Linked DNA regions of Homo sapiens. The protein of the gene in region 2 purifies or fractionates together with the protein of the main gene of each other region. This does not show direct contact. Each region holds a gene or a part of one and is shown on either strand. Other genes may lie near its edges. The genes, in order: G3BP2, CAPRIN1, STAU1 and EZH2.

The links.
Region 1: the proteins of CAPRIN1 (region 2) and G3BP2 purify together in Homo sapiens (affinity purification with mass spectrometry; 5 studies listed by BioGRID and IntAct, with this or other methods). This does not show direct contact.
Region 3: the proteins of CAPRIN1 (region 2) and STAU1 purify together in Homo sapiens (affinity purification with mass spectrometry; 2 studies listed by BioGRID and IntAct, with this or other methods). This does not show direct contact.
Region 4: the proteins of CAPRIN1 (region 2) and EZH2 purify together in Homo sapiens (affinity purification with mass spectrometry; 2 studies listed by BioGRID and IntAct, with this or other methods). This does not show direct contact.

Annotation. Positions count from the first base shown.
Region 1 is NC_000004.12:75,670,264-75,677,956, reverse strand, and holds the start of G3BP2 (ras GTPase-activating protein-binding protein 2), read left to right. Parts: upstream 1-4,545; 5' UTR 4,546-4,749; intron 4,750-4,799; exon of another isoform or gene 4,800-4,938; intron 4,939-5,062; exon of another isoform or gene 5,063-5,144; intron 5,145-5,255; exon of another isoform or gene 5,256-5,451; intron 5,452-7,693.
Region 2 is NC_000011.10:34,082,731-34,090,043, forward strand, and holds part of CAPRIN1 (caprin-1), read left to right. Parts: intron 1-94; coding exon 95-147; intron 148-224; coding exon 225-311; intron 312-3,333; coding exon 3,334-3,489; intron 3,490-3,574; coding exon 3,575-3,683; intron 3,684-6,664; coding exon 6,665-6,726; intron 6,727-7,313. UniProt on the Homo sapiens protein: mRNA-binding protein that acts as a regulator of mRNAs transport, translation and/or stability, and which is involved in neurogenesis, synaptic plasticity in neurons and cell proliferation and migration in multiple cell types.
Region 3 is NC_000020.11:49,115,183-49,122,495, reverse strand, and holds part of STAU1 (double-stranded RNA-binding protein Staufen homolog 1), read left to right. Parts: intron 1-2,367; coding exon 2,368-2,514; intron 2,515-4,087; coding exon 4,088-4,163; intron 4,164-4,399; coding exon 4,400-4,719; intron 4,720-5,247; coding exon 5,248-5,370; intron 5,371-6,628; coding exon 6,629-6,714; intron 6,715-7,313. UniProt on the Homo sapiens protein: Binds double-stranded RNA (regardless of the sequence) and tubulin.
Region 4 is NC_000007.14:148,811,126-148,818,438, forward strand, and holds part of EZH2 (histone-lysine N-methyltransferase EZH2), read right to left. Parts: intron 6,993-7,313; coding exon 6,752-6,992; intron 6,267-6,751; coding exon 6,097-6,266; intron 5,654-6,096; coding exon 5,559-5,653; intron 4,830-5,558; coding exon of another isoform or gene 4,823-4,829; exon of another isoform or gene 4,428-4,822; intron 4,422-4,427; coding exon 4,381-4,421; intron 3,915-4,380; coding exon 3,789-3,914; intron 3,013-3,788; coding exon 2,834-3,012; intron 596-2,833; coding exon 500-595; intron 1-499. UniProt on the Homo sapiens protein: Polycomb group (PcG) protein. Catalytic subunit of the PRC2/EED-EZH2 complex, which methylates 'Lys-9' (H3K9me) and 'Lys-27' (H3K27me) of histone H3, leading to transcriptional repression of the affected target gene.

The DNA.
Region 1 (7,693 bases), on a different chromosome or scaffold from region 2:
CAATCCCCTTTTATGAGCACACGAATTCCATTCATGAAGGTGAGGCCCTCATGACCTAGTTGCCGCCTGAAGGTCCCACCCACCTTTTAATACTTTTGCATTGGAGATTAAGTTTCAACATGAATTTTGGAGGGGCACATACATTCAATCCACAGCATCATCCTTCCTAACTGAATTAGTAGTGGGGCCAAGACATTTGTTTTGCAAGCCTTAAAAGTTTAAAAACATGGTGAGTAAAGACACTTTCCAAGAAAAATGCGTTTCCCTTAAGGACTTGGATTTTACTCCCTTCCAATGCTTGGTCTTCATAAACCTTATTTATGTGGGGTGTGTGACCCCTAAACATGCATGTAGTCATCTCTTTTTTTTTTTATTTTTTATTTTTTGAGACAGAGTCTCGCTCTGTTGCCCAGGCTGGAGTGAAGTGGTGCGATCTCGGGTTACCACAACCTCCGCCTCCTGGGTTCAAGTGATTCTCCTGCCTCAGCCTCCCCAGTAGCTGGGACTACAGGTGCGCACCACCATGCCTGGCTAATTTTTGTATTTTTAGTAGAGACGGGGTTTCACTATGTTGGCCAGGCTGGTCTCGAACTCCTGACCTCGTGATCCACCCACCTGGGCCTCCCAAAGTGTTGGGGTTACAGGCGTGAACCACTGCGCCCAGCCGCATGTAGTCATCTCGTATACACCTACTTCATCAGCAAAAGTGGTGATAATGGACTTGGTTGATCTTTTAGTATTCAGTAAAGTTGAGAATGGTCAAATGAAAGGGTGTAGAGGAAAAGCTTTATAAATTCAAATGTCTTATCTTATTCAAATACTTATCTAAGTATTTTATGCTGAAGTTTATAATAAAAATCAGGAATCAGGTAATATAATTCTAGTAATTTTACTTTTAAAAATTTACCTGCTAATGGTGATTGGGTCTGATTCATTTACTTTTATTTTTCACAGTGTTTTGATAAAGGTTCACATTAAAGGCCTTGGGGTGGTAATGTGATGAGAATGTCAAAGGAAGAGCTGGCTGGGGTGGTGTGAGAAAACCAGTGGTAAGAAAAGAAATGGAAGTAATAGGTAAGGACTAGATCAGGTAGGCCTTGTAGGCCATGGTAAGGACCTGAGATTTTGTGTTGCCTTTTAAAGGTTTTGGGACCATCTCAATTATAACTATGAAAGATCTGGCTGCTGTGAGGGGAACAGACTGTAGTGGAATAAGAGTGGAAGCATTGAGGCCAAGTAGAAAGCTATTGCAATAGGCAATGGTGGCCTGGACTACTATAGCAGCAGTAACAGTGATGCAAAGTATTTAATCCAGAATAAATGTTGAAGGTAGAGGGAACAGAAATGTATTGACAATTCGGCGAAGTGGGTGGATCACTTGAGGTCAGGAGTTCGAGATCAACCTGGCCAACATGGTGAAACCTCGTCTCTACTAAAAATAGAAAAATTAGATGGGCGTGGTGGCACATGCCTGTAGTCCTAGCCACTTGGGAGGCCAAGGCAGGAGAATGGCTTGAACCTGGGAGGTGGAGGTTGCAGTCAGCCCAGATCATGCCATTGCACTCCAGCCTGGATGACAGAGCGAGACTCCATCTCAAAAAAAAAAAAAAAAAAAAAAAATTATTGGCAATTGGCTGTCAATAAATTGGTGTGAGAAAAAGAGGTTTTTGGCCTGAGCCACCGAATGAATACCGTTCACACTGGTCTCCCTGCCTAGTCTATAGGAGGTGGACATTGCTTCATGGAGGCTATGTTTGAGAGGCAGGGAGATTAGTTAGGAGGCCACTGCAGTCTTCCTGGGAAGATGAAGGGGCCTGAACCTGGGCAGGGGCTATTTGTGTAGAGATATGTTTATGAGGTAAAAATCGCCAGTTAGAATAGGTTAGAGATATTTACTTAACATTGAAGATCGCTGAATCTTTTTTCCCATTAACTCCACTTATTGGTGTCTACTCAAGAGCAGGGTTACCTGAGGGCTGTTTCTGTGTAGCTCTAGAGCTAAACTAAAAATGTTTCTTAAATTTTTAAAGGATGCGAGAGAGAGAGGAATATGCAACAGAAACCATACGTGGCGCTCAAAACCAAAAATATTTACTATCTAATCCTTCCCTTATCAAACCGTTTGCCCACCTCTGCCCTAGATCAGTGGTGTTTGTTTTTTTTGAGACGGAGTTTTCACTGTTGTCACCCAGGCTGGAGTGCAATAGCGCGATCTCAGCTCACCGCAACCTCCGCCTCCCAGGTTCAAGCGATTCTCCTGCCTCAGCCTCCCGAGTAGCTGGGATTACAGGCATGCGCCACCACGCCCGGCTAATTTTGTATTTTTAGTAGAGACGAGGTTTCTCCATGTTGGTCAGGCTGGTCTCAAACTCCTGACCTCAGGTGATCCGCCCCCCTCGGCCTTCCAAAGTGCTGGGATTACAGTCGTGAGCTGCCGCGCCCGGCCTATATCAGTGGTTTTTAAAGTGTGGCTCCTAGAGCAGCAGTAGCACCATCAGCTGAGAACTTGTTAGAAGTGCAAATTCTCGGGCCTCTGTTGAATCAGAAACTTAGGGAGTGGGGCCCAACTATCTGTTTTAACAAGCCCTACAGGTGATTTCGGTGCACATTAAGGTCTGAGAACCACTGCTCTAGAGAAAGTTCTGCACCTCTGCAGGATACATGGTGAAGAATATTTATAATAGCATTGCACGGAAGAGCTCCAAACCGGAAACACTTGAAGGTTAGTCAGCAGTAGGGCAGATAAGTGAATTGCGGCAATTAGTACAATGGGAGTATTCTATAGTTTGCCTGAGGGTATGGACTGTGGAGGCAGATTGCCTGTGTTTGAATCCCAGCTCCAGTGAATAGTAGCAGTGTAGTCCTGGGTAAGTTACTTGACCTCTCCAAGCCTGTTTTCTCATCTATAAAATGGGCATAAAAATAGCAACTACTGGCCGGGTGCGGTGGCTCACGCCTGTAATCCCAACACTTTAGGAGGCCAAGGCGGGCGGATCACGAGGTCAGGTGTGTTCGAGACCAGCCTGGCCAACATAGTGAAACCTCGTCTCTACTAAAAATATAAAAATTAGTTGGGTGTGGTGGCATGCGCCTGTAGTCCCAGCTACTAGGGAGCCTGAGGCAGGAGAACCGCTTGAACCCGGGAGGCGGAGGTTGCAGTGAGCCAAGACCGTGCCATTGCACTCCAGCCTGGGCGACACAGAGAGACTCCATCTTAAAAAAAAAAAAAAAAAAAAAATATATATATATATATATATATATGTACATACATATAGCAACTAGCTCATAGGGTTACTGTGAGGCTCAGAAGGCTGTATAATTACAAGAATGCCTGGTATATAAGCCCAGTATATTAAAGGACAGCCGGCATGTAATGTATTTTGATGCTTTAAGGAAAAACATCAGGTTGATTTCATTAAAGTGATGGTCTGCCCAAATATTTTGCATATAACAGTATCTTTAAGCAGTCTAAAGGTAAAGATATTGTAGACTTTGGAGGCCCTAATGTTGGCATTGCCTCTGCCAATATTTAAGGTATTTGACGTATTGTCTTAACATGCCAAATACCTTAAAATTGCCCTTACAGGATTGCGAAGAAAACTGATGAGATGTACATGCTTGCGTCCACCATGTTTAGTTCGTAAGCATTCATTAATGTATTTTTTCCTTTCCGTTTCTTTGAACACTTCCTCAGTCCTTCATTCCAAAATTCCTGTGCTATCTCGGTATTCTCTGAAAACACTGCCAGACCTAAGATGCAAAGTGGCTTCCTTGACTACAAGATTTGGCTTGGCTTTGTCCATGAAACAAGGTCACCAGTGTCTCACCCTGGGGGCAAGTCTGGGCTTAGAGCTAGAACAGGACTGTAATCCTTGTATTTCAGGCCTTCTTTTAGCTTTAGTATGTAAAATGCTTTAGTATCTACTGATATTTAGCCATGCCTAAATTCGTAACAAGGACACAAAGAAATAGTCTTTTCCCCCTCTGTAAAGCCCACGTCATGTTCTTCCTTTACTGCAGGGCCTCTTAATGGGGCTTAAAACCTAGGATGGGTTAAGTAAACAATGTAGGTGAGTTTAGTGTGCAAACAGCTGAAATCACCGGCTGCATTTTAAGCTCGTCTACAGCAGCAACCTGCAGACACCTATTCAGAGAGATTACTAAATTCCCTCCTTCCCATTAATAAAAAGGACCAGAATATCAGTCTACAAAAGACACTGCGTTGCTGCGAACCAGCTCTCGCTTGCGCGATCAGGAAGAAGGGCGGCAAGGCTGGAGCCTCGGGACCGGAGAAAGGCAGCCTGCTTGTGACGTCAAATCAGCGGACTCTTATCTTGGCTTTAGGCCGGTTCCGGTTCCCCGGCTTTCCGGGCGCGAGCGTGTGCGAGCGCGGCAGCGTACTGCGCGTGCTCCGCAGAGGGACACGGGAAGGTTGGGTCCGGCTCTGGAGGAGATGCGTGATTGGCTGACGCTGTGCTCGGGGGTTCCCTGGCCCTTTCGGCAGGGGTAAAACAATAAGAGGGGGCGGTGGCAAAGGGGGCGGGACGTCCGTGGTCCTTGTCGCACGTCGCAGCGCCTGGCGCCCGGGAAGAGGTGGTTGTGAGGCAGACGAACTCGCGGCTCTCCGGCTTCCGAGGCTTCCGAGTTGTCGGAGGAAGGGGGCGGCGAGCAATAAGAACCCGCCGCACCCGGTCCTCAGCGACTCTTCTGACCTCCGCGCGACGTACCCGCCGCCGCCGTTGGCTGGAGGTGTGTACGGGCGCCGGGAGGGGAGGTCGGTGTGGTGGTCGGAAAGGGACATTCCATTCGCGCTCCGCGGCGCGAGGCAATCGTCCGGTGTGTGAGCCCGGGAGCCGGAGGTGTAGCGGCAGAGACATTGTTCTTGCCGGCTCCCTACGGTGCCGTGTGTGCGTGAGAGAAGACCAGTCTTTCCTCTAGGTGAGGGGTGGGAGGCCGCCTGGGAAGGGAGGTGACCCGCGAGCGTCTTGCGGGCAGAGGGCTCCGAGTGCACAGGTGGGGTTGAGGTTTATTGGGGATGAGGTGGCGAAGTGGGGGGGGAGGCACGCAGCAGCTCCCGAAGGCGCGCTGATGGAAGCTTAATACAGGAAGTGTGGGAGCAGGCTTTCTGGAGGGGATGTTTTAGGGTGGGTAGCCCACCGTTCCTGTTTCCGAATCGTTTTCGGCTCTTGTACCTTGTTCCTTCGGAGCGGAGAGGCCGTCGCCACCCCGCCCGTGGGGGGAGGGGAAAAGAGGTTGTGTCGACGGAGGCAGAAGCGACGCAGATGCGAAAGTGGCGGCCTCCGGGCACCATTTCTGTGCACGGAAACAGAATCCGGGTTTGAAGGCAGCCGCCGCTTCGCTTACCCAGTACCTAGTGTTCCGTCGTGTTTGACCAACCCCCCTCTCCCTGCCACCGCGGGTTTAATCCGAACGTGTTCGGATACTGGAACTGTAACGTGCGCCTTCTTCGTCCCCCTCTTATGCAGACGATCCCTTATTGACTCGGGAATGGCTTTTGGGGGATGGGTTCCCGCTTTTGTTGGGATGGGGGGACAGAAAGGAACAGAAGCTTCCCTAGATTGTGTTGATTTTGTTAGTGGAATCTGATAGAATTTTTCCTGCGTCTCTAAAAGCAGATTTCTTAAGATGGCCCTTTGCCGCTTTGGGGCGAATATAGATTTTCGTCTATAATTTCCTGCATAGATCAGCTTTTTTCCCCAAGACATACTTAATGTTCTAACGGATTTGGGGGGTGGGAGGAGAGTGCCTTTTCCTTCATAACAACAACAAAAAAAAGGCACTTGCACTTTTAGCTGGAATAGTAAAGTCCTGTTCTCCCTGTATGATTGTTGTGGGATATTAACTTGGATTAAGATACTGTGGTTTTAGGTTCAAGGCTCTGTACCTTGTTCTGGTCTTTCAAACGTTAGTGTTGCAGGTACCTGGATCTAGGAAACATTAACTGTCGTTAAGAGAGCCCCGGTGTACTAGAGTGGGAGATGATGGCAATTTTTCTCTAGCTCCATATTTGGCAGTTAATATAGCCTTAGGCATGTGAACCAAGTTTCTAAGTAAACTTTTGGCCCTGTTAGCATCCAGTGGTCTTTTTGATAATCCAAGATTCCTGGTCTTAGGAGATAAACGGTACGATGAGTTTGAACCTCAGGATTGAATTATCCTTTCTTTGGCAGTAACATTTTTCTTAAATGTTTAAGATTACTCTTATGGGCCTTTATGTTATGATTTAATCTTTACAAACTAATTCTGAAAAGCAGTCAAGGAATTGTAGGAATAATAAGGACCTAGAATGAATTTCTTACTAAGAGCTGTCATAGTTCAGATTGATATTCAGGGTCGAAATATTAGTAATAGTGAAAAAACATCAAGAGTGAACCAGAATGCTTGTGGGATGGATGGGGATAAAAATTAGAAGGTAAAGAAGAAAACACATTATTTGACCATTTCGTAGAGTAACTAACTTAACTGTTCAGTTAGCAGCTGAGCAGTTGATTTGTCAGCAGGCAACTCCTGGTTTGAAGAAAGTGTTGGCACTGTGTCTTTAGATTCTGAAAACTTCCCTCCTTATCCTGCAAAATTATCGCTGTTTATTACGCATAATTAGGATTGAACATTTTCCCCCTAGATTGCTTTAAAAAGACTTTCCACATATTTTGAGTGAATATGGAGACAGTGAATGACTCCTTTTCAATGTTGATTTTGAAAGGCACAAACTAAAGTGTTGCGTCTGAACTTAAATTCAGTAGAATTTAATGGACAAACATGACCTAGTTACTCTCCACTGGTAGACACTTGTTTTATATCCGATAGAATAAATTGGTCCACCCACCTTCAGGAAGGTCCTGGCCTACCTTCAGAAGCAATAGAATTAGTTTCTTGACTGTCGTGTTTCTGCTTACTTTTATCTGCTAATTTCCAAGTATTTTACCCTATCTTGAAACCATAGGTATATTGAAAATTATTCTTGGATTTTCTGTTGCTGTCCTGCTGTATTCCTTTGCTTTTCACTCTTCTCAACAGTTTCACATAAGCTAACAATTGCTTGTTTAAAATTAATTTTTTGTATTGTTGGAAGAGCTGGCTGCTCTTCCAAAGCGGTTGTTCCTAACCAAAGTGTAATGAAAACATCAGTTGAGTCAGGAGTCAGGAGACCTGATTTCAAATCCTCTTTCTTTTTACTGTAACTGAGGAACCCCAAACACCTTTCCTTAGGCTCTCTAAACATCCTTTTCTGTAAATGAAGATAATGCCCTATCTATTTTAAAGACAAAAGAAAATAGTAGGTTACTTGTTAAACTTTAAAACATAGTATAAATACATGCTTTATTTTTGTGGACAGCAAGCATTTCCATTTCTTACTGCTTGGTCACTTTTAATAGCTTCTGAATTTTAAAACTAGCCTCCCTCAACTTCTGAGAAGGACAGAAAACAAAAACACCTTTTGGAGCCTGAATAAGAGATTTAATCCATAACTTACTTTTATTATTTATTTGTACCACTATGATTCTTAGATCTTCTTTGTGAAGCTTTCATTCAATGGTGTACCACAAAAGATTGAAGGTCATTTCTTTAAAAAGGTATAGTGTTCCTTAGATTGTTTAAGTTACTTCAAACAAAAACCATCTGGAATTTCAGAAAGTTCCAGTATTAATATGCATTTAGCTGTTGGAAATGG
Region 2 (7,313 bases):
GCATAATGACGTGTATCTACCAATATCACACAGAGTAGAGTAGTATCACTGACCTAAAAATCCTTTTGTTTTGCACCATTTTTTAACCTCTTAGAACCTGAGCCAGCAGAAGAGTACACTGAGCAAAGTGAAGTTGAATCAACAGAGGTATGATTTTAATTTAATGCTGCCTTTACTTTGCTGCCTTTCAAACAAATGTCTCAAACATTTACTTTGCTTTGCAGTATGTAAATAGACAGTTCATGGCAGAAACACAGTTCACCAGTGGTGAAAAGGAGCAGGTAGATGAGTGGACAGTTGAAACGGTTGAGGTAAGAGTTCTCTGTATTGCAAAGTTGTTGTCTTTGTCTTCAGTTAGTAATTTTTATCTCTACTGAGAACAAATTAAGATTGTTTTTTGCATTATTAGTACATTTATTATAATAACAGACTCATTACACCAGACTGTTACTTCCAAAAAATGAATGTTTATCCCTGTGGATGTTTAATAGGATCCCTGCTTTGCTGAACCAATCTAAAAAAATTATTTTATACAAAGTTATCTGTGGATTAATCTGTTACCATGATTTGTCTCTTACTGAAATTAGGTTGCTCTGTAAAAATCTGGGCTCCCACACTGATAGCTGTGTTTTGGGGTATCATCTTGCACTCCTCCTTTACCCTAATGCTGTTTGGTCACCAGGCTGTAGACTTCCTCTAGCGTTTTCTAATGCTGTCTCTCAACTGATAATGATGATTTTTTTCGGGTCCTCATGTCTAGTTCAGTGACTCTCTTCATATTACTCCTCTCTGACTGCCTCCAGACCATCCTATTCATTGTCACAACTTAATTATTGGAAAAGTTAGCTTTAAGTTACTTGTACTTGAGGCTCTCAGTGATGCCTTGTTACCTGTAAGATACAGTCTAAAAACCTTACCAACTGGTCCTGGCCTTCCTTTTGATCTTCTTTTAGATGTCTTTCTTTACACCCCCAAGGTGCAGGAAAATAGCTGTAAGCTGAGGGTAATATGCTTTTCCTTTTAATATGTTATTCTTATATCAAGACCATTCTCTTGGCCGGGCACGGTGGTTCATGCCTGTAACCCCAGCACTTTGTGGGGCTGAGGCAGGTGGATCACATGAGGCCAAGAGTTAGAGACCAGCCTGGCCAGCATGGTGAAACCCAGTCTCTACTTCAAAAACAAACAAAAACCTGGGCATGGTGGTGCATGCCTGTAATCCCAGCTACTTGGGAGGCTGAGGTACGAGAATCACTTGAACTGGGGAGACAGAAGTTGTAGTGAGCTGAGATCGTGCCACTGCATTCCAACCTGGTTGACAGAGACTCTGTCTCAAGAAGAAAAAAACCCATTTTCCAAAGAGATTGCAAAGTTTTTTTTTTTTGAGAGTCTCACTCTTGCCCAGTAGAGATGGGGTTTCACCATTTTGGCCAGGCTCGTCTTGAATTCCTGACCTCAAGTGATCTGCCCGTTTCAGCCTCCCAAAGTGCTGGGATTACAGTCATGAGCCACTGCGCCTGGCCCATAGATGTTATAATTGTGCCAGCAACTTCATCCCTCTGTTGGAGCACCAAAATGTCCCATTGGTAAGGTAAAGAGAGTAGGCACTTACCCCAGAAAGGTACTTGGGATGAAAATACTGCTCAGGAAGTCCCAACAAAATAGTGTATATTTGCTGAATTAAAGAATGCAGTTCAGAAATGTTATAGGAGGATTAGAAGAGAAATCAATCAAAAAGATTAGTAGAGGTGATTTACAGTTGTTCCTTGTTATACCAGGGGCATTGGTTTTAGGACACTCCCACACACCGAAGTCTGCTCATACTCAAGTTGTGCCATGTATCTGCGGGACCCACATATATACAGGTGTTTCACATCTCAAGAGTACTGGAGGATAAGTGAACCTGTGCAGTTCAAGCCCATGTTGTTCAAATGTCAGCTGTATATATGAGGTGTACAAACCCATTGAGCCTTGACTAAGTCGATGGGATGTATGTTTTTAGGGGAGCCAGGTAATAGGGATGTATAGCATGGATGTAGAAGTAGAAATGAACTATTAACATATTTGTTTTATTGAACATAGAATGCAAGGTAAATATTGACATAGTAGGAAGAAGTTGGGAAGCAGTATACAGTGCTTTGTAGTTAAGTATTTTTTGGATTTTATTTGAGAAGAGCATACTACTTGCCACTGTGCCAGTGTGGTTTGTTCTTTGTATCTAGTAGGTGGGCCTTTCTAAAGGCTATCCACATGAGATTCCACGAATTTTTGGAGCATCCTGAAGTTGGTATTACACAGATTGTTGGTTTCGCTTTGGTAGTGATTTTTATCTGTGTTGTTTATAAAGGGAATAGCTGATTTTGCCTAGTTTCAACCAGTATGACTTGTCCAGTTTTAAATCCAGACAGAATAATATAAATTTGATGTAATAAAAGATAGGATTTCCTTGCAGAGCAGGGAATTACTAAGAACAATAAGCAGAGGAAATTATTAGAGCTGGGAAAAGGCTAATAGAGTGAGCTTTGGCTTCTGTAGCAGTTTAGATGAGTTGGTAAAGCTTGATCCTATGGTGTTGGCTGAGAAAATGGAATGGGAAAAACCCAAATCTTGATGATAATAATAGCTAACATTTCTTGAGTGCTATGTACCAGGTTGTGAGATAGATATATATTTGACATAGATATATAAATCCAGTTACTATAGAAGGCATAACAGTTTTAAGAAAAATACATTATTTTAGGATGTAAACACAGGTAATCTTTCTTTGAAAGCAGCTTATAAAATAAATCTGAGGCTGGGCATGGTGGCTCATGCCTGTATTCCCAGCACTTGGGATGCCAAGGCGGGTGGGTCACAAGGTCAGGAGTTCAAGACCAGCCTGGCCAATATGGTGTGAAACCCTGTCTCCGCTAAAAATACAAAAATTAGCCGGGTGTGTTGATGGGTGCCTGTAATCCCAGCTACCTGAGAGGCTGAGGCAGGAGAATTGCTTGAACCCGGGAGATGGATGTTGCAGTGAGTCGAGATCCCGCCACTGCTGTCCAGCCTGGGTTACAGAGCTAGATTCCGTCTCGAAAGAAAAAAAAATAAATAAATAAGTAAATCAACATGAAATGCTACATAGTGGTCTTATGGAACTGAAACACTGTAGAAGTGATGACATTTTTCAGAATGTTAAATTTGGCATAAATGTAATTCATTTGGGTAACTGCATTAAAGCCCGTTCTGTTTATAGTATAGATGGTTTATGTAGTGTGGGGGACCCATCATGGTGGTAGTGAGTGGAGCTTTTTTGCTCTCCTATTCCTTCTAATCCTTTTTTTTCTACCTTAGGTGGTAAATTCACTCCAGCAGCAACCTCAGGCTGCATCCCCTTCAGTACCAGAGCCCCACTCTTTGACTCCAGTGGCTCAGGCAGATCCCCTTGTGAGAAGACAGCGAGTACAAGACCTTATGGCACAAATGCAGGGTCCCTATAATTTCATACAGGTATGTTCATTTTAGTCAGACTCTGTAACAGAAAGTTTAAGTGTTTATATTATTTGACTTTATTCTATCCTAACTTAACCTGTAGGATTCAATGCTGGATTTTGAAAATCAGACACTTGATCCTGCCATTGTATCTGCACAGCCTATGAATCCAACACAAAACATGGACATGCCCCAGCTGGTTTGCCCTCCAGGTTAGTAGTGGTACATTTTTATGTGAGAGAGAAATATAAGGCCAGTACTTTCAGGTTTTAAAAAGATTGTGAAAATAAATTTTGTTTATTTTAATGACTGTTTAATTTTGACTCTTAGGTCTTTTAATTTGATAGAAAGAATGTTATTGTTCCTATGATTTGAATTAAAAATGTAGTTTATAACTGTTTATTTTTAAACTTTTCATTGGCATGTAGATATAGAAAAATATACGCAAGTTTAATGAGTTTTTATAAACTGAAAACACCTGCAGCTAGATTAAGAAATGAAACATTACCAGTACCCCAGAAACCTACGTTGTTTCCTTTCAATCACTAGTTACCCTCACCCCTAGCGATAGCAACCACTTCCGTACTTGTAACTGTAATAGACCAGTTTTGTCTGTTTTTGTAACTTTAACAAGTGAAATTTTGCTTGGCTTTTAAAATTTCAAAATTAATCTAGGAGTAAAAATAATAGAGGTGCCTTTTTTTGAATGCTTTTAGCTTTCTAGGAGAATTTCTGGATTTTATTACCTTAAAAAAATACACAGCAATGAAGTGGGTAAGGGAATATGTAAGAGGCAAAGGGAAGAGAGAAACCACAAGACAGTTTCAGACTCTTTCTGGACTTACACCATTATTTGAAGTAGTAGCACTAAATACAGTTGGTGCCTTCCATTGGGTTAAGTGGACCTTCTCTCCAGGACTATTAGTGATTGTGAGTCATCTTGGTTTTTCCCAGAACACATCAGTTTTAGTTGCACAAAAGTGGAACTAAATAAAATAACCTATTTAATGTTGCATGATGTTAAATATCATAAAATAAATTGCTGAGTAAAAGTATGTTTAATGACAGTTAATTTGGTGTAAGGTAGTTAGGATTTTTCTGAAGTAAAGGGAGCTCATATCTCTCACATTTTTTTTTTTTTTTTTTTTTTGAGACGGAGTCTCGCTCTGTCGCCCAGGCTGGAGTGCAGTGGCGCAATCTCGGCTCACTGCAAGCTCCGCCTCCCGGGTTCACGCCATTCTCCTGCCTCAGCCTCCCAAGTAGCTGGGACTACAGGCGCCCGCCACTACACCCGGCTAATTTTTTGTATTTTTAGTAGAGACGGGGTTTCACTGTTTTAGCCGGGATGGTCTCGATCTCCTGACCTCGTGATCCGCCCGCCTCGGCCTCCCAAAGTGCTGGGATTACAGGCGTGAGCCACCGCGCCCGGCTCTCACATTTCTATCAAGAGTTTTAGAAAACAGATCAAAGGTGACACCTACAAGAGAGCAATCATGGTTTTTAGTGTTCATTTTCTGAGCTCTACCAAAGGAAGAGAGTAAGTCGTTTTCTCAGCTGGGGAGTTGTGTGAAAGTCAGTATACATAGCACTGATAAAACCTGTAAGGCTATTTAGTTATTTACATAATGCTGAGTCCATTAGACTCTCCAGTGAAAATGGGTACTTTCTAAATGACTAACCAAAGATCGTCGTTTTGATTATCTGTTTAATCATTGTTGGGAAGGGAGGTGAGAGAGTGATGGGAATTGTTAAGAAGATGCATGCTGAGTTGAATATAGGCTGTTAAAAAGTATATATTATTTATTTGTTTATTTAGAGACGCAGTCTCGCTCTATCGCCAGGCTGGAGTGCAGTGGCGCATTCTTGGCTCGGCACGCTGCAACCCCTGCCTCCCGGGTTCAAGGGATTCTCCTGCCTCAGCCTCCCCAGTAGCTGAAAGTACAGGCACACACCACACTACACCCAGCTAATTTTTGTATTTTAAGTAGAGATGGGGTTTCACCATGTTGGCCAGGATGGTGTCAATCTCTTGACCTCGTGATCCACCCGCCTCGGCCTCCCAAAGTGCTGGGATTACAAGCATGAGCCACTGTGCCTGGCCGAAAAGTACATATTTTAAATTTTCTTTTTCTCTAGAAACACTTGAAATTGAAAGTTGGTTATGTTAACATATATTGAGCCGGGTATGGTAGCTCATGCCTGTAATCTCAGTGCTTTGGGAGGCTGAGGAGGGAGGATCACTTGAGCCCAGGAGTTTGAGACCAGCCTGAGCAACATAGACCTCGCCTCTACAAAAAAATTAAAAATTAGTCAAATAAAAAAGTTAGCTTGGCAGGGTGGCATGCATCTATAGTCCCAGCTACTCAAGAAGCCAAGGTGGGAGGATTTCTTGAGCCCAGAGTTTGAGACTACAGTTAGCTATGATGGCGCCACTGCACTCCAGCCTGGGCAACACAGTGAGACCCTGTTTCAGAAGAAACAAAAGGTCAAAATGGAATACTATCTGTCTGAGGTCTAGAGTATGAATAATGCCACTTTATTGTACAGCTTTAAAAGTCTTTTTTCATGGCACTGATTATTTGTTAGTGCATTCTATTAACATTTTACTTTACTTTTGGAAAAAACAAGATGAAACCAATTGTGAAAGTAAACTATTAAATAATAACCACTGCCGGTAAACCAAAATGCTCACTTGAAAGCTAAAATTTTATCTGCATTTCCCAATTTACTTTCATGATTGCTAAAAAGTTTATTTATGGTTTGGCTATAGAAATTTACCTTTAATTGCTGGGCATGGTGGTTCATTCCTATAATCCCAGCACTTTGGGAGGCTGAGGTGGGCAGATTGCTTGAGCCTAGGAGTTTGAGACCAGCCTGGGCAACATGGCGAAACCCTGTCTCTACTAAAAATACAAATATTATCCGAGTGTGGTGGCACACACCTGTAGTCACAGCTACTTGGGAGGCTGAGGTGGGAGGATCACTTGAGCCTGGGAGGCAGAGGTTGCAGTGAGCTAAGATCACATCACTGTACTCCAGCCTGGGTGACAGAGTGAGACACTCCCCCCCCCCCCCCCCCCGCAAAAAAAAAAAAAAAAAAAAAAAGCCTTTAATAGCGAAATAAAAGGTATTTAGACGCGTCTCTCTAAAAATTTAATTTTGTTTGACAAAAATGTTTTGGTCACCTTTGCAGTTCATTCTGAATCTAGACTTGCTCAGCCTAATCAAGTTCCTGTACAACCAGAAGCGACACAGGTAAGAGTGATAAAACTATTTTCTTCAGGGCCAGGTTAGGTGGCTCGTACCTATAATCCTAGTACTTTAGGAGGCTGAGATGGGAGGATCACTTGAGGTCAGGAGTTCAAGACCAGTCTGGGCAGTGTAGCGAGACACCATCTCTATTTTAAAAAAATAATTAAAAAATATTTTTTCACTTTTGTTTTAATTGGTTCCTTGGTTTCTTTCTTAGCTTATGAAAGAAAATAAGAATTTCATCAGTGTCCAAGTCTTCTGTTGGAATTCAGCAAATTTATTGTTGTGGATAGCTGTCAGCCTTTATTTTTATGTTTAGGTTCATTTTTCCTCTTGATGACTTTTTAAGTTTTTCTTAAGTCTTGCATTTTAAATAATGTATTATAATATAATAAGCCTTTTTTATTTAGAACTGAGAATTTCAGAAGACATAGTTTAGACATAATTCTAAAATTTAGTGCAGATTTCTCCATCTTAGAAGTACTTGTGGAGGGCTTTTATAACGAGACTTGGGTTTATTTAACGTCGAGCTTCAAAAATATATATATTTTTGCAATTTTTAGGTTTTATATTATACAAATTTAAAGAGA
Region 3 (7,313 bases), on a different chromosome or scaffold from region 2:
AGCACTACTGCTGGGTGCACTGGTGGGAATGTGGGTGTGTTGCACTGAAATTTGGAAGAAAGAGTCCTGGGGTGGTGGGTGCTGGGAGAAGTTTTTCTTCATTACATCTCCTTGAAGGTTTATGACATTGCTCTTTACCAAAGGTAAATTTTGTAAGTAGTATCAAGAGATCTGTTCCTCTTCCTCCTAATTCTTATGGAGTCTGGAATCTAGGGTTACCTCTTCCTTAGATTGGGTGACACTTCAGATTAGTATGGAACATTTCTTTGTACTTAGCTGATTAAGTTCAAAGCTAAGTGGTCATTTCACATAGGCAGCTTAACTTAATTGTGATTTGAATTTAAGTGCTTTCTGATGTAAGACAGAATCCTTATCTCTTGTATAGCAATTTATAACTTAGAAAGTTGACCTCGTATATTTTACCTATGCAGTCAGAAGGTAGGAAAAGAATGATCCTTTCATTCCACAAAAGGAAGTTGCAGTTTGCTGAGAGGATCAGTAGTTTGCCCAAGATGAAATGGCTGGTAGATGGCCAGGTTGGAATTTAGTCCCAGGCCAGGGAATGGTTTCTTTGACTCTCTGAGTCTTGTGACCTGGGCTTTTGGTTTTAGCAGCCAGGTGCCTGTTATTACAATCAACTTGGAAGGGGGTTGTAAGTAGTGATGTGCTGGAACATGTTTAACAACCAGCTCTTCTTCGGGGAGGGTGGTTTGGTGGAATGAGCTGAATATGTATGTTATAGATATATACATGGGTGTTATATACATGTGTGTTATAAATTTTACTGACACAAAGGATGTGTGTTATAAATTATACTGACATATATGTGTGTTTTATAAATTTTACTGACAGAAAGGATGTGTAGTACAATTTATAAATAATATACACTTTATTGTAAATTTCATACATATTTCAGTGTGACAGTTACCAACGATAGTGTTATAAAATCAGACAGCACATAATGGTTTATTACTATCCAGTTCAGCAAAGGTGTTGCTCATGTCACTGACAAATACATACTGTAGATTTGAGATTTTGGTTGTAGCATGAATACTGGTTGAGATACATTTTTTTTGGGGTAGAGGGGAATGGAGTCAACTTGCTCTGTTGTCCAGGCTGCAGGGCAGTGGTGTGATCTCGGCTCACTGCAACCTCTGCCTCCCAGGTTCAAGTGATTCTCCTGCCTCAGCCTCCCGAGTAGCTGGGATTCACGGGTGCCCACCATCACGCCCAGCTACTTTTTGTATTTTTAGTAGAGATGGGGTTTCACCATGTTGGCCAGACTGGTCTCGAACTCCTGACCTCAGGTGATCCACCCACCTCAGCCTCCCAAAGTGCTGGGATTACAGGCGTGAGCCACCACGCCCGGCTGGTTGATGTTTTTTATTTATGTTAATAGGTAAGATGAAAGTAAAACAGGCTGGGCTTGATGGCTTACGCCTGTAATCCCAGCATGACGGATCACTTGAGGTCAGGGGTTCGAGACCAGCCTGACCAACATGGTGAACCCTCATTTCTGCTAAAAATAGAAAAGTTAGCCAGGCATGGTGGCACACGCCTGTAATCCCAGCTACTCGGGTGGCTGAGGCAGGAGAATCGCTTGAACCTGGGAAGTGGAGGTTGCAGTGAGCTGAGATCATGCCATTGCACTCCATCCTGGGTGAAGAAGTGAGACCCTGTCTATCCCAAAAAAGAAAAAAGAAAAAGTGAAACAATGAAGACATGTAACATCACTCATTTGTAAATGATATGAGTGGCTTCTCTGCAAAATTAGATAATTTTCAAAGACGGGAAGATATTTCAGTTTTTTGTGCTAGTTACAATGTAATGGCTGCAGACTTCTCATGCTTTTAAGATTAACCTGCTTTATTAACCTTTTCATCATTGTAGGTTTAGAGTTAGACAATAAACAGCTTATGATCTTTGATACGTAGCATTTGTATATTTCTGTGGTATAAATAGTCCCACCATGGCTGATTTCAAGCTCTCAAAGTGATACTTCCAATGGCAATGCTGGGAATAGATGTACAGTAGTTCACCATCACAGACTGTTTCCATTGTACAAATGCAATAGCTGGGCAGACCCTCAGAACACAGATGATTATAAAATGCAGTCAAAAATTACCTCTGTTAAAATAATTATCAGCTTATATAATTAAATGTTTAATACTGGCTGTGTTTAACAGCCAGCTTCCCAAACTCCTGACTATTTAATAATTAGCTCTCAGAGACAAGGAGGCCAGGTTCGGGGCACTGCTGTTATCTTGCTTCTGACCATAGTTGGTTATTTTGCTGACACACCAATTCCTGCCTGGTTGTTATTCTGAAGGTTTAAGCACTGGTCTGTGTTTTGACTTCTTTGTGCAGGTGAAGGTTGGAAACCACACTGCAGAAGGAACGGGCACCAACAAGAAGGTGGCCAAGCGCAATGCAGCCGAGAACATGCTGGAGATCCTTGGTTTCAAAGTCCCGCAGGCGCAGCCCACCAAACCCGCACTCAAGTCAGAGGAGAAGGTGAGTGCTGTGGGCTCTCTGATTGCAAGATGGTCTCTCGCCTCACCCTAGGGAACTGGGGCACCTCCAGGGGCAGGCTTCAAGGCAAGGCTTTATCTGCCTGACAGTTCAAGGAGTCCTGCTGAGGAGTGTCTCATCCATTTGGACCATAATGTGCTCAGAGGGGCCTCGCATGTCCACTGGCCCCAGGAGGCTCTGGGTTAGATCGTTGATTGTGTCAGTATCTTTGTGGTCTGGGGACGCTTTGTGGAGGGCAGCTTGCTCCTCTCTATTTGTAGGATGAGGATGAAGGGTAATTAGGACTGAAATTACTAAGTGTGATTTGCACTCTAGAAATGAAGCCTGTGTGAAAGATTTATAACTGTTAGGCTTTCGTTAATTGTGGAATAGGCTTTGATTTTTCTGGCAAAATAAGACAGTGTGACAGTAGAGACAGGCCAAATCCAAAGTTTAGGTTTGGGATTTCTTTTTTCCTATGTGAGTTAAACATCAGATGAAAATAATCCCCTGTTGAAAAATTCACGGCCAGGTGTGGTGGCTCAAACTTGTAATTTGGGAGGCTGAGGCCTTGAATCCAGGAGTTCAAGACCAGTCTGAGCAACATGATGAAACCCTGTCTCTACAAAAAATTAAAATATCAGCCAGGTATGGTGGCTTGTACCTGTAGCCCGAGCTACAAGGCTGAGATGGGAGGATTGAGCCTTGGAAGGTCAAGGCTGCAGTGAGCTGTGATCATGCCACTGCACTCAGCCTGGGCGACAGACCCTGTCTCAACAACAACAAAAAAGGAACGTAAAAAGAAAAATTCGTGTCTGCCAGAAGTGGTAAGCAGGACCTCAGCAAAAGCCATGGCTGACCTTCTTCTTTCCCATCACTGAATGGTCCTGGTGAGATAAACTTGAAATCAGGCCTGATTCATTCATGTCTGCCAGTCATATTGACAGAAACAGCATCAGTCATGGCCAGTTAATAACTGACTGGGACCCCAGATACCACCAGTATAGATCTTAGACTTGGCTTTAGGGTTTTTCATTTCAGAATCTTGTAGGACATTCAGAGTGTCCTTTGTTACTTCTTAGAAAGGTGATGTTGTGTTAGACAAAATTCTTAGGTAATAACATTTTCCCCGTAAGGGTGTTAATTTTGGAATGTCACCTTATTTTTTAATTGGATATCAGCTCCAGGAAATATTCTTGATTTATTTGTTTAGCTTCAGTCTGAAAGCTTCTTTCCCCACCTTGGTGGGCTCTACCGTCTAGCATCTCTGCTCTTTCTGGTTAAATGCTTCCCGTCTTCCTGTGGGTGCAGAGTGCAGCTCAGCATTCACAGGTTAGTGCACTTTGTTAGATGCTCTTTGTGGGCAGGGGTGTGGGCAGGAGGGTGCATTAGGAGAAGGAGGCAGGCTCTGCCCAGGTGTCTGTCAGGGTGCCAGTGGTCAGGTGGGGCAGGGTTTTTCTGCCGATTGCCACAGTTATTGCTGACTGGACTTTGTGTAGATTTAGACAGCAGGAGCTAATTTTTCAGTGATCTGATTTATGCTCATGGCCTTTTTTTTTTCTTCTTCTTTTTTAAGACACCCATAAAGAAACCAGGGGATGGAAGAAAAGTAACCTTTTTTGAACCTGGCTCTGGGGATGAAAATGGGACTAGTAAGTGTGATCTTAATATCGTCTTCCTCTGAACGTGATTCTGGGATTTGCATGGGTCCTGAATAACAGCAGGAGCCCAGCCAGTGAGGTCCCGCATGCAAAGTGTCTTTATCATTCCCTGATTCCCTGCGCTGCCATGCGTGCCAAGGGGAGGGCCAGCGTGGGGTTTGATGGTGTCATTGCGTTTTTCCAGGCTGTGGATGTGGATTCGTGTTTACCGTGTATGTCCCTCCCAGGTAATAAAGAGGATGAGTTCAGGATGCCTTATCTAAGTCATCAGCAGCTGCCTGCTGGAATTCTTCCCATGGTGCCCGAGGTCGCCCAGGCTGTAGGAGTTAGTCAAGGACATCACACCAAAGATTTTACCAGGGCAGCTCCGAATCCTGCCAAGGCCACGGTAACTGCCATGATAGCCCGAGAGTTGTTGTATGGGGGCACCTCGCCCACAGCCGAGACCATTTTAAAGAATAACATCTCTTCAGGCCACGTACCCCATGGACCTCTCACGAGACCCTCTGAGCAACTGGACTATCTTTCCAGAGTCCAGGGATTCCAGGTAACTGTCTGGCCTGAGCTGTGATGGCTGTGCCTCAGGACAGTCATCTTTTGGCTTCTCTCAGAAAATGAACTTTGAACTTTGTACTTTTTTCTTAAATCAAGTTCTGTCCAGGGATGGGCTGGGGAGCAGTGATGGAAGGGTAGGAGGTATAGAAGTATTGTAAGCATATGTGGTAAGAGAAATATCTTTATCCTTTGGTAGTAAGATTTCAACATGCAAGCCAACCCTAAAAGCTTCTAACCACTAGCAGTGGTTGTAAATTTGGATTTCAAAGAACAGACTCATCGTGCTGACACTTTCTGTCTGGTAGGAAAGGATATGGCTTCTCCCAGTCTTGGGCTTCTGAGCAGACACCTAGGTTCCTGGAAGGTTCTGGGCTGACAGGGCAGGTGTTAGTATGGCCACAGTGGGGCTGAGTTGGAAAAAAGAGCTGGTGATCTTGCTTGTGGGGCCTGGAGCTGCAGCCCTCCAGCCCACTCATACTTGCTGTTCCCTACCTAGCCTCAGCTCTCTTTTCCCCCTTAGGTTGAATACAAAGACTTCCCCAAAAACAACAAGAACGAATTTGTATCTCTTATCAATTGCTCCTCTCAGCCACCTCTGATCAGCCATGGTATCGGCAAGGATGTGGAGTCCTGCCATGATATGGTACGTCACACCTTGGGTGAGGGATTGGGGTGTTGTGTGTTTATGTGGAGCCTGCCTTGGTTCAGCTTGTTACTAGCCTGAGGAAGATGGGAGAAAGATTGTCCCATAGACCTTGAGAGCAATGAATCGTTTGATAGTGTTCATATTTTTGAAGACTTTTTGTCATAGCTGATTGGATCGATTTCTCACTCTTGATCAGAACTCATCAGCTTTAGCCCACCTTTCCCTTCCTTTTCCCTGCTGGCCTGGAGGGGCAACTGGGATCCTGCAGCTCACCCAGAGACTGCACTCACTTCATCTCTCACCAGAACAAGGAATTGCAGGTCCACGTTCTGGCAGCTGTAAAAACCACTTGCTTTGGTCTTCTGTTCAGATGAAATTATTGTTATAAGAAAACTGAGAAAAGGAATTGATCAGATCAACAAATCTAAGTAAACTGTGATGTATTCACTTGATGGGATGTCATGCATGCATGAAATTAATGTCTCTGGGTGGGGTGTGGTGGCTCACACTAATCCCAGCACTGCGGGAGGCTGAGGCAGGCGGATCACCTGAGCTCAGGAGTTCAAGACCAGCCTGGCCAACGTGGTGAAACCCCATCTCTACTAAAAATACAAAAAAAAATTAGCCAGGTGTGGTGGTGGGTGCCTGTAATCCCAGCTACTTGGGAGGCCAAGGCAGGAGAATCGCTTGAACCCGGGAGGTGGAGGTTGCAGTGAGCCAAGATTGCACTACTGCACTCCAGCCTGGGCAGCTGGGTGAGACTGCGTTTCAAAACAAAACAGTGTCTCCGAAGATAATGTAATAAGAAGAAAAATACATGATAGGCCGGGTGTGGAGGCTCACACCTGTAATTCCAGCACTTTGGGAGGCCAAGGTGGAAGGATCGCTTGAGCCTAGGAGTTTGAGACCAGCCTGGGCAACTTAGTGAGACCCTGTCTCTATAGAAAGAAAAATACATGATAGATTTTTGTTAGAAAGCAGGATATAACATTTATACAGTCTGGTTACCACATGGTTAAAAATACTAGAAGGAAAAATATAACATTTTCAGAGGTTATGATTCAGTGAGGTAACTGAATATTTTTTAATTTGTATTTTAAATTAAAAATTCAAAGTTTTATTTAGTAGTACCAGAGTTGAAGAAGTTGCCACCTGTTTGCTGGGCAGCAGGAACTCTCTTGCCTGCCTGACCAGTGTATTATGCTGTGGTCCCAAGCGGTGGCTGTGGCTTTACCCTTCTTTCCATCCCCACTAGGCTGCGCTGAACATCTTAAAGTTGCTGTCTGAGTTGGACCAACAAAGTACAGAGATGCCAAGAACAGGAAACGGACCAATGTCTGTGTGAGTGCACTGATGAAGGGGAAGGCGCTGATGATGGGGAGGCTGCCCCTCGTTTGTGTTGAGTTTACACTATCTGCTGACTCAGCGGGGAAATATTTGCCTGAGTTACTTTCTGGCCCTTTTGCCTGAAAGTTTTCCAGATTCTCTGGGCAGAAAGCTCTACTTTTAAAAGACATTTTGAGGCTGGGAACAGCGGCTCACACCTGTAATCCCAGCACTTTGGGTGGCCAAGGCAGGTGGATCATGAGGTGTCAGGTGTTTAAGACCAGCCTGGCCAAGATGGTGAAACCCTGTCTCTACTAAAAATACAAAAATTAGCCAGGTGTGGTGGCAGGCACCTGTAATCCCAGCTACTTGGGAGGCCGAGGCAGAGAACTGCTTAAAACCTGGGAGGCGGAGGTTGCAGTGAGCCGACATAGCGCCACTGCACTCCAGCCTGGGCGACAGAGCAAGACTCCGTCCCAAAAAAAAACAAAAAAACCTTTTTGAGTTGGTCATACCTTCACATGGTCAGAACTCTGCATTATTTTACAAGGTACAATCTTCCCCTCGGACAGCCCCCATCCCATCCCTCCTATTCTCCCCACCGCCTCCCCCAT
Region 4 (7,313 bases), on a different chromosome or scaffold from region 2:
GCAATCCTGTTTTGTTTTGCTTTTTTTCCCCTCTGAGACAGGGTCTCACTTTGTCGCCCAGGCCGGAGTGCAGTGGCACAAACATGGCTCACTGCAGCCTCAACCTCCCAGGCTCTTCCAGGCTCAAGCGATCTTCCTGCCTCAGCTCCCAAGTAGCTGGGACTACAAGTATGCACCACCACGCCCGGCTAATTTTTGCATTTTTTGTAGCAATGGGGTCTTGCCATGTTGCCCATGCTGGTCTCCAACTCCTGAGCTCAAGCAATCCACCTGCCTCGGCCTCCCAAAGTGCTGGGATTGCAGGAGTCGGCCACCGCGCCCAGCACAATCCAGTTACTAAGCATGCAAATCCACAAACATGCAGAAGTCCAGGCTGAAAAGGCAGTTTATGGCAATTCATTTCCAATCAAACCCACAGACTTACCTAATAAAATCAATCTAAAATAAAGTAAAGTTAGTATATACAATGCCACCTGAATACAGGTTATCAGTGCCTTACCTCTCCACAGTATTCTGAGATGAATTCATTTTTCTGCACAGGATCTTTGATAAAAATCCCCCAGCCTGCCACGTCAGATGGTGCCAGCAATAGATGCTAGAGAATAAAACACAATCACATCATCAAAAAAGGAGGGTGAAAATGGACTGGGGACAAAGTAGACTACAGAATGAAAACAAAAGCTATCACTGTAAATCCTCAGACCTGTTTGTTCTAAGGCAGTAATTGGGCACACAGCTTCAGTCAACGTGAAAGCTGCTGAGAATGGCTATGAACATTATGTTTTCCTTATACAGCAGATAAGAATCTCTGTCTTACAGAAAACCTTTTGGTGGTGTTGGTCCTCTGCAATGACCATCGTTCAGCAAGGTGCTCTAGGCCTGCTGCACTTTTGGCTTCCCTGTATCTTCAGCCCTTGATTTCCTCGAGTAATTCACTTTCAACCTGAATTTAATATAAGGACACCACCAAATCACTCTTCCTCTCCATACCTTTCCCTCTACTTTCCCCAAGTGATTCTATTAATAGTTATTCCATTTTCAGCCCCAGGACACCCCCTGATTCTTCACTGGCGTTGGTTCCCTCTGAAGCCCATAGCAGCTTGGCTTTGGATTTGTTCTTCCACCCCACCTCCTCAGGATAACACAAGAAACTACCGGGAGGTGTTATCATGATCTTGTCAGTCCAGTAGTCTATTTTCAGCAGAAATGCCAAGATGATCATTGCTATAAATTATGTATTTAGGGATGTGTTCCCCAACATATGCCAATTTTTCATCACGGCTCAGTATTATGCTTTCATCCAAAATTTTCTTGTGACCTTTACAAAGGCTTCCTATCTATTCCTATTCTGGACCATCTTACCACTCACCTGTCATGTGAACTTCCCAAATAGCCTTCTGATCAGAAACTAAATTAGCTAAATACTGCTATGCAAATGAAACCCAACTGGTAAAAGGTATCTACATAGTTTAACATTTTTAAGAGTTAAAAAATGTCTTACAAAGAGGACATGTCAGTATGAATAGAATTGCCCACTTTCTGAACAAAGTGAGGAAGGAGTACAATGGTAAGTTGTTTGGGGGGGAAATTGAGATTTTTAGGTCTGAGCAGGTATGCCATCGGAAACGGAACCAGAGTCACTGTGATCCAATGACCTAAATGGACATATAACTGCCTAGAGTAAAATCATCTAAATGTCTAACAGAAAAGAAAAAAGTCAAAGCTAAAAACAAAAAGCCCACCACCCTGCACAACTCTCTGCCATAAACACAGACTTTGGTTCAAAGACACAAACAAAACCAAGAGAACTTCAATGTTTTGCCTGGAGCAGAATTTCTGGTAGAAGGGGACTTGCTGGTAAGAAGTGTGTTCTCAATTATAAATAAATGGTCCAACAACAAAGATATGTCTACTCTACACCCCACATACACACACACACACACACACACACACACACACAGAGCATAAGAGCAGGTTAATGGGAGCCTGGAGGATTTGATCTCCTGCTCCTTTACAAGTCTTGTGACTTTGGGTTTCCTTACCCGTAAAATGGGGGTTAACACTTACTCCTCACTCACAGGGTTAGGAGAATCAATGAACAAATCCACTAAAGCACTCACAACAGTGCCTATTTTTACATGCTTAATAAATGTCAGCTATTATTATAAAAAGAACTGACTGAAGAAAGAACTTATCATCTGCCCTAAAAAAAAAAAAAAGATACGAAATTTCCCAAATACATGCTGCTGAAGTGTCTTTTGCTCAATCATTACTTCCTGGCTGATAGAGTTAACTCACCTACATACAATTCCCCAGACTAAAAATATATAGTTCCTAGCTGGGTTTTTTTCAAGGTTATTAAACAAACAGGAAGTAAGTCTATAAAAACCTGCCATGGGAAATTTCATCTTTTACTCTACATAGCAAGGAATCTATAAATACTCTTTGATGAGAATGAGTCTATATTTTGATAGAAATCACCATTTATTTGCATTAAGGATACTAGATAAACTATTAACTAAAAGACAAATTCAAATAATCTATTAAACAGGTAGAAAAAATACCTCTTATTCCTAAATCTGATACCATGAATGGCTACTTCTCAGAATTTGCTGGTTTCTCCTACTATCAGAGTATGGTGCTCTATATAAAACTGAAGAGACTGCCCAAGGGTGCATTACCCAGAGAAAATTATGAACACTTTCTCATCAGTTGCACCTTTCAAGGATCACTTTTACTTTTTGCCCCAGCTAAATCATCTAAGGCAATCCTGACATTTGCATCACTAAATAGCTAACTACAAACAATCTTCCAGAAGTGACTTGTTGCTCACCTTTTTGGAGCCCCGCTGAATACTGCAGTTCTTGCAGGACACATTTTTACTGTCCCAATGGTCAGCGGCTCCACAAGTAAGACAGAGGTCAGGGTCACACTCTCGGACAGCCAGGTAGCACGGGCACTGCTTGGTGTTGCACTGTGCTTTGCAGCGGCATCCCGGAAAGCGGTTTTGACCTTCAGAGAGAGGTTTGGAGGTTCTTCACTCATCACCGTATGCAAAAACTTGCAGAAAGATACGTGGCAAGGGCTGTACTGGGCATCTCACTGACTCTCAACCCTCACAACCACCTTATTACCCTACTATATAGACAAGGAAATGGAAGTATTAACAGCGAAGTTATAGCTGTTTGCACTGAAAAAGACCACCACTGAGTTGTTTTTCCATTTTTCATTTGTTAAATAGTGTATATATTTAAAGTCGGTGTGAATAAAGGGTCTGGATGGAACAATATCCATGGTCCTTGACCATTCCAATAGCCCCTAGTTCTAAACACTCCCTTAATACCCAAGCTTCATGTGCAGTCTCATTAAACAATTATAAAAATCTACTATGTTTATGCTACATTCCTTTAATCTGAAGACTAAAACCCTCCTAACTCTGACGATTTCTGGTGCCCAAAAATTATTTGGGTAGCTCCTTCTAGATTCCTCTTACAATCTGTGCCAACTTTAATACAACTTAATTTAAATGATCAAAGAAGAAAAAAATAAAATTCAGGTTCCTTTAATACAACTTTGCCTGCCTCACACACACAGACACACAACACCCAGGCGACTGACTGGCCACTGGCACAGGGCCAGGTATGGGGCTCAATAAATACTTGTCAAATTGATGAGTTTCGTCAAGTAAACAAGGGAGTGCTCCCATGTTCTTATTTTTGATTTTTTAAATTGCTAACCAAAGACCTATTTAGTTCTCATGCAATTGCATCAAAGCAACAAATACTTACACTCTGAACTACATTGACAAAACTTTTCACAAAAATTTTGTGCTATCACACAAGGGCACGAACTGTCACAAGGCTGCCGTGGATGATCACAGGGTTGATAGTTGTAAACATGGTTAGAGGAGCCGTCTGAGTAAAGATAACATCATGCAGGCCAATGAATCCAGGGAGATGGAAACGATCATACACAATTAACACGAGTACATTCTTCCCTACTACCTGTGGAGTGTAGCTGGCCTGCCTTTACTGAATGCATAACATTACACATATTCCGGTTTCCACAACGATGGCAAAAAATACTCTCCCACCCCCAAGTGCTTATGAGTTCCATCTAAAGCACGGCTACATCTCAGTCCCATCCCAAAGCACTTCTCCTTCAACTGACTCGGACTCACACCTTCCAGTCAGCCTCCACTTTACAGAAGAGAATTGACTGGGGATTCATCAGTAGACGTCCTCCATTCAAATTGGTTTAACATACAGAAGGCAATTATATTAGAATAACCCAAGCTCTAATCCAGTTACTATTCTAAAACAAATGAAAACAAAGCAGATATTGTTAAGCTAATAATGAGAGGAATGGAAAGATGCTAACCCTTTTTCAGCTGTATCTTTCTGCAGTGTGCAGCCCACAACCTGCAAAAACACAAAGAAAATTAAACCAAATTTCTGCGGGAAGCTACAAATCCAACAGAGAGCTGCTTAACTGGATCTATCTGTGCCATGAATACAGGAATGCGTTAAAGCCAAGAGTCATGCCCTGCCCAGTTTATATTTGCCATCAGTTTGAAGCAACTCAAACAGCTTGATGGCTCAGGCTGCCCCAGGTGTGGCAAGACGTCATTTCCTGTGTTCATCCATGACTCCTGGTCAGAACTCCTGAGCTCCCAATGCTGCACAAAGCAGCAGGTGTGTCTGCCTGTTGATTTATTCTGATGTGGATGACACTGATCACTTCCTCTTATTTCAGGCATCATAAACCAAGCAAGTGAACTACGTGGTCAGAAATAATTCAACCAAAATTTCAGAAGCATCTCCTAAAGCCTAAAAAATAAAAATAAAAACTTGACTTTAAAAAAATTCTAAATTGGGTTGGCCCTACACTTATTTTTGTTAAAGTAAGAAAATGTAACATGAGCCTGTACACAATTTAAGAAGCATAATCTAACTGCACCCTTACCTACCCAATTAGGTTTCTCATTTTTAAAAATGTGAGGTAGAGGTATGGGGAGATTAGAGCAGATAGTCCACTCATCAATTTTTCTGGTTCTACATTTACAAATCAAATCAGCCTGAAAACATTCGCTAAGGTGAAAATAACATTCACACAAGCTTAAAGTAGGGTACCCATTAGGAGTATCGGAATGCAATGCCACACAACTTAGAAATTCAAGCTCCTGGAATAAAAGATACTTCTAAAAACTGGCCCAGAGCTCACATCAGAAACACAGAACATTTCATGATGTTAAAGTAATTGTTTACGTAACCTTTACTGCAAAAGCTACTAAATATGTTTTTCTTAACCCAAATGCAGTCTGGTAACCGTAATTTTTATGACTCTTAACATACCAAATATACTGAAGGCTGCTGTATTCTTATAGAAAAATACTAGCAATTCCCAGTGGAAATAAGATTCCATAGTTCTGTTTTTGATGGCAGTTTAAGGTTTTTTAAAAATAGACTAAGTAGAAACCAACAACAGCCCTTAGGAAGGGCCTTGCCTGCAGTGTCTATCTATGTTGACTTCTCTAAGGAGCTTCATGACAGACTCACCGGTGTTTCCTCTTCTTTTTCCTTGGAGGAGTATCCACATCCTCAGCGGGAGCTGGAGCTATGATGCTAGATTCTTTGACTCTAAACTCATACACCTGACAAGAGGCACAGTCACAGAGCCATGAGGACAGTCTTATTTAGGCAAACCATTCTTATACTCATGCATACCAGAAAAATGTCTTTGTCTCTTCTGTGACACTGCTAGATGCTGGGGATATAACACACATCGCTGTCCCTACCCTCACATTAGGGGTAGCTGTAATTATATTCTGGTCAAGAACTGTGATGCTAAATTTCAATTCTTACTAGCTTTTAAAAGCTACTGCTATCTAACCTTAAAAGTCTACATTGGGGAAATTCTGTAACATACCTGGAGAATAATTTTCATTCAATTCCCTCTTGGGAAGAAAAAAAAATTATTTTTAGGAGATGAATAGGAGCTTAGTAATAACCAAGAATTTTCTTTGTTTGGACAACGAGTACAGTTTTATCTCTATGTTTGAAGCTCTTTTAACAACATTTTTATCGGATATCTTACCTGTCTACATGTTTTGGTCCCAATTAACCTAGCAATGGCACAGAAATTGTCATAGTAAGTGCCAATGAGGACTCTAAACATTGAGGCTTCAGCACCACTCCACTCCACATTCTCAGGAGGTTCAATATTTGGCTTCATCTTTATTGGTGTTTGACACCGAGAATTTGCTTCTACAAAACCAAATGTAAGCACTGGTCAAGAAATGATTGGAAATAATATTAAGAAGTACAATTCAGGGTGTGCTTAAGAAAAAAGCGAAAAGATGAGGACAACTCAAATCCAATCGGCAAAACACTAACCCATCGTAGTTCACATTTTCCAACAAAACTACTCACAGAACGTCAAGAATATTAAACCAAATGATCCAAATTTCATTATTCCCTACCTGAGAAAGATCGAAAAAAGAAAATGGCACAAAGAATGAGAATAAAGTGCATCATCAGCTTTCAAACAACCAAGCAGGGCAAACACCACAAGCTAGGGTACGGGTGCAGGCAGGAAACAGAAACAACACAGCTACACATTCTTGAGATAACTCTGGTCTTTATACTGAAACTAACCAACTAAGAAAATTATTCAATGCATTATACATCCTTAATCCTCACAACACGAACTTTCACAGAACAGTAAAACCCAGTTATTAGACGTGTCTTACCAGAGGAGCTCGAAGTTTCATCTTTCTTCTCTTCTTCTTCTTTATCATTGTTCTCTCCCCCCGTTTCAGTCCCTGCTTCCCTATCACTGTCTGTATCCTTTGATTCCAGCACATTAATGGTGGGGGTGCTGGGCCTGCTACTGTTATTGGGAAGCCGTCCTCTTCTGCGGCCTCCTGGACGTTTTGGTGGGGTCTTTATCCGCTCAGCGGTGAGAGCAGCAGCAAACTCCTTTGCTCCCTCCTACGAAATGAAAAATGTCAACATCAGGGCAAAGTTCTAAAACTCATTTTGATGGAAGAGAAAAAAAAATACTATATAAGCCAGGTTAGTCAAAAAATGTATCACATTATCCATTTATCACAAATAATCATTTGCATGTCTAATATACTTGTTTTGATATGCTTTTGATAGTCTGAAAATTTCAGAAAGAGAAATATGGGTTCTATATATTCCTAGAATGGTACAAAAATCAGGCAAGACAGTTCTATATTGTGAATTTGTAAAATATATTAGCTAGTTATAATTAAGTTAAAATATAAGAAGATAAAGTATGAAATATAC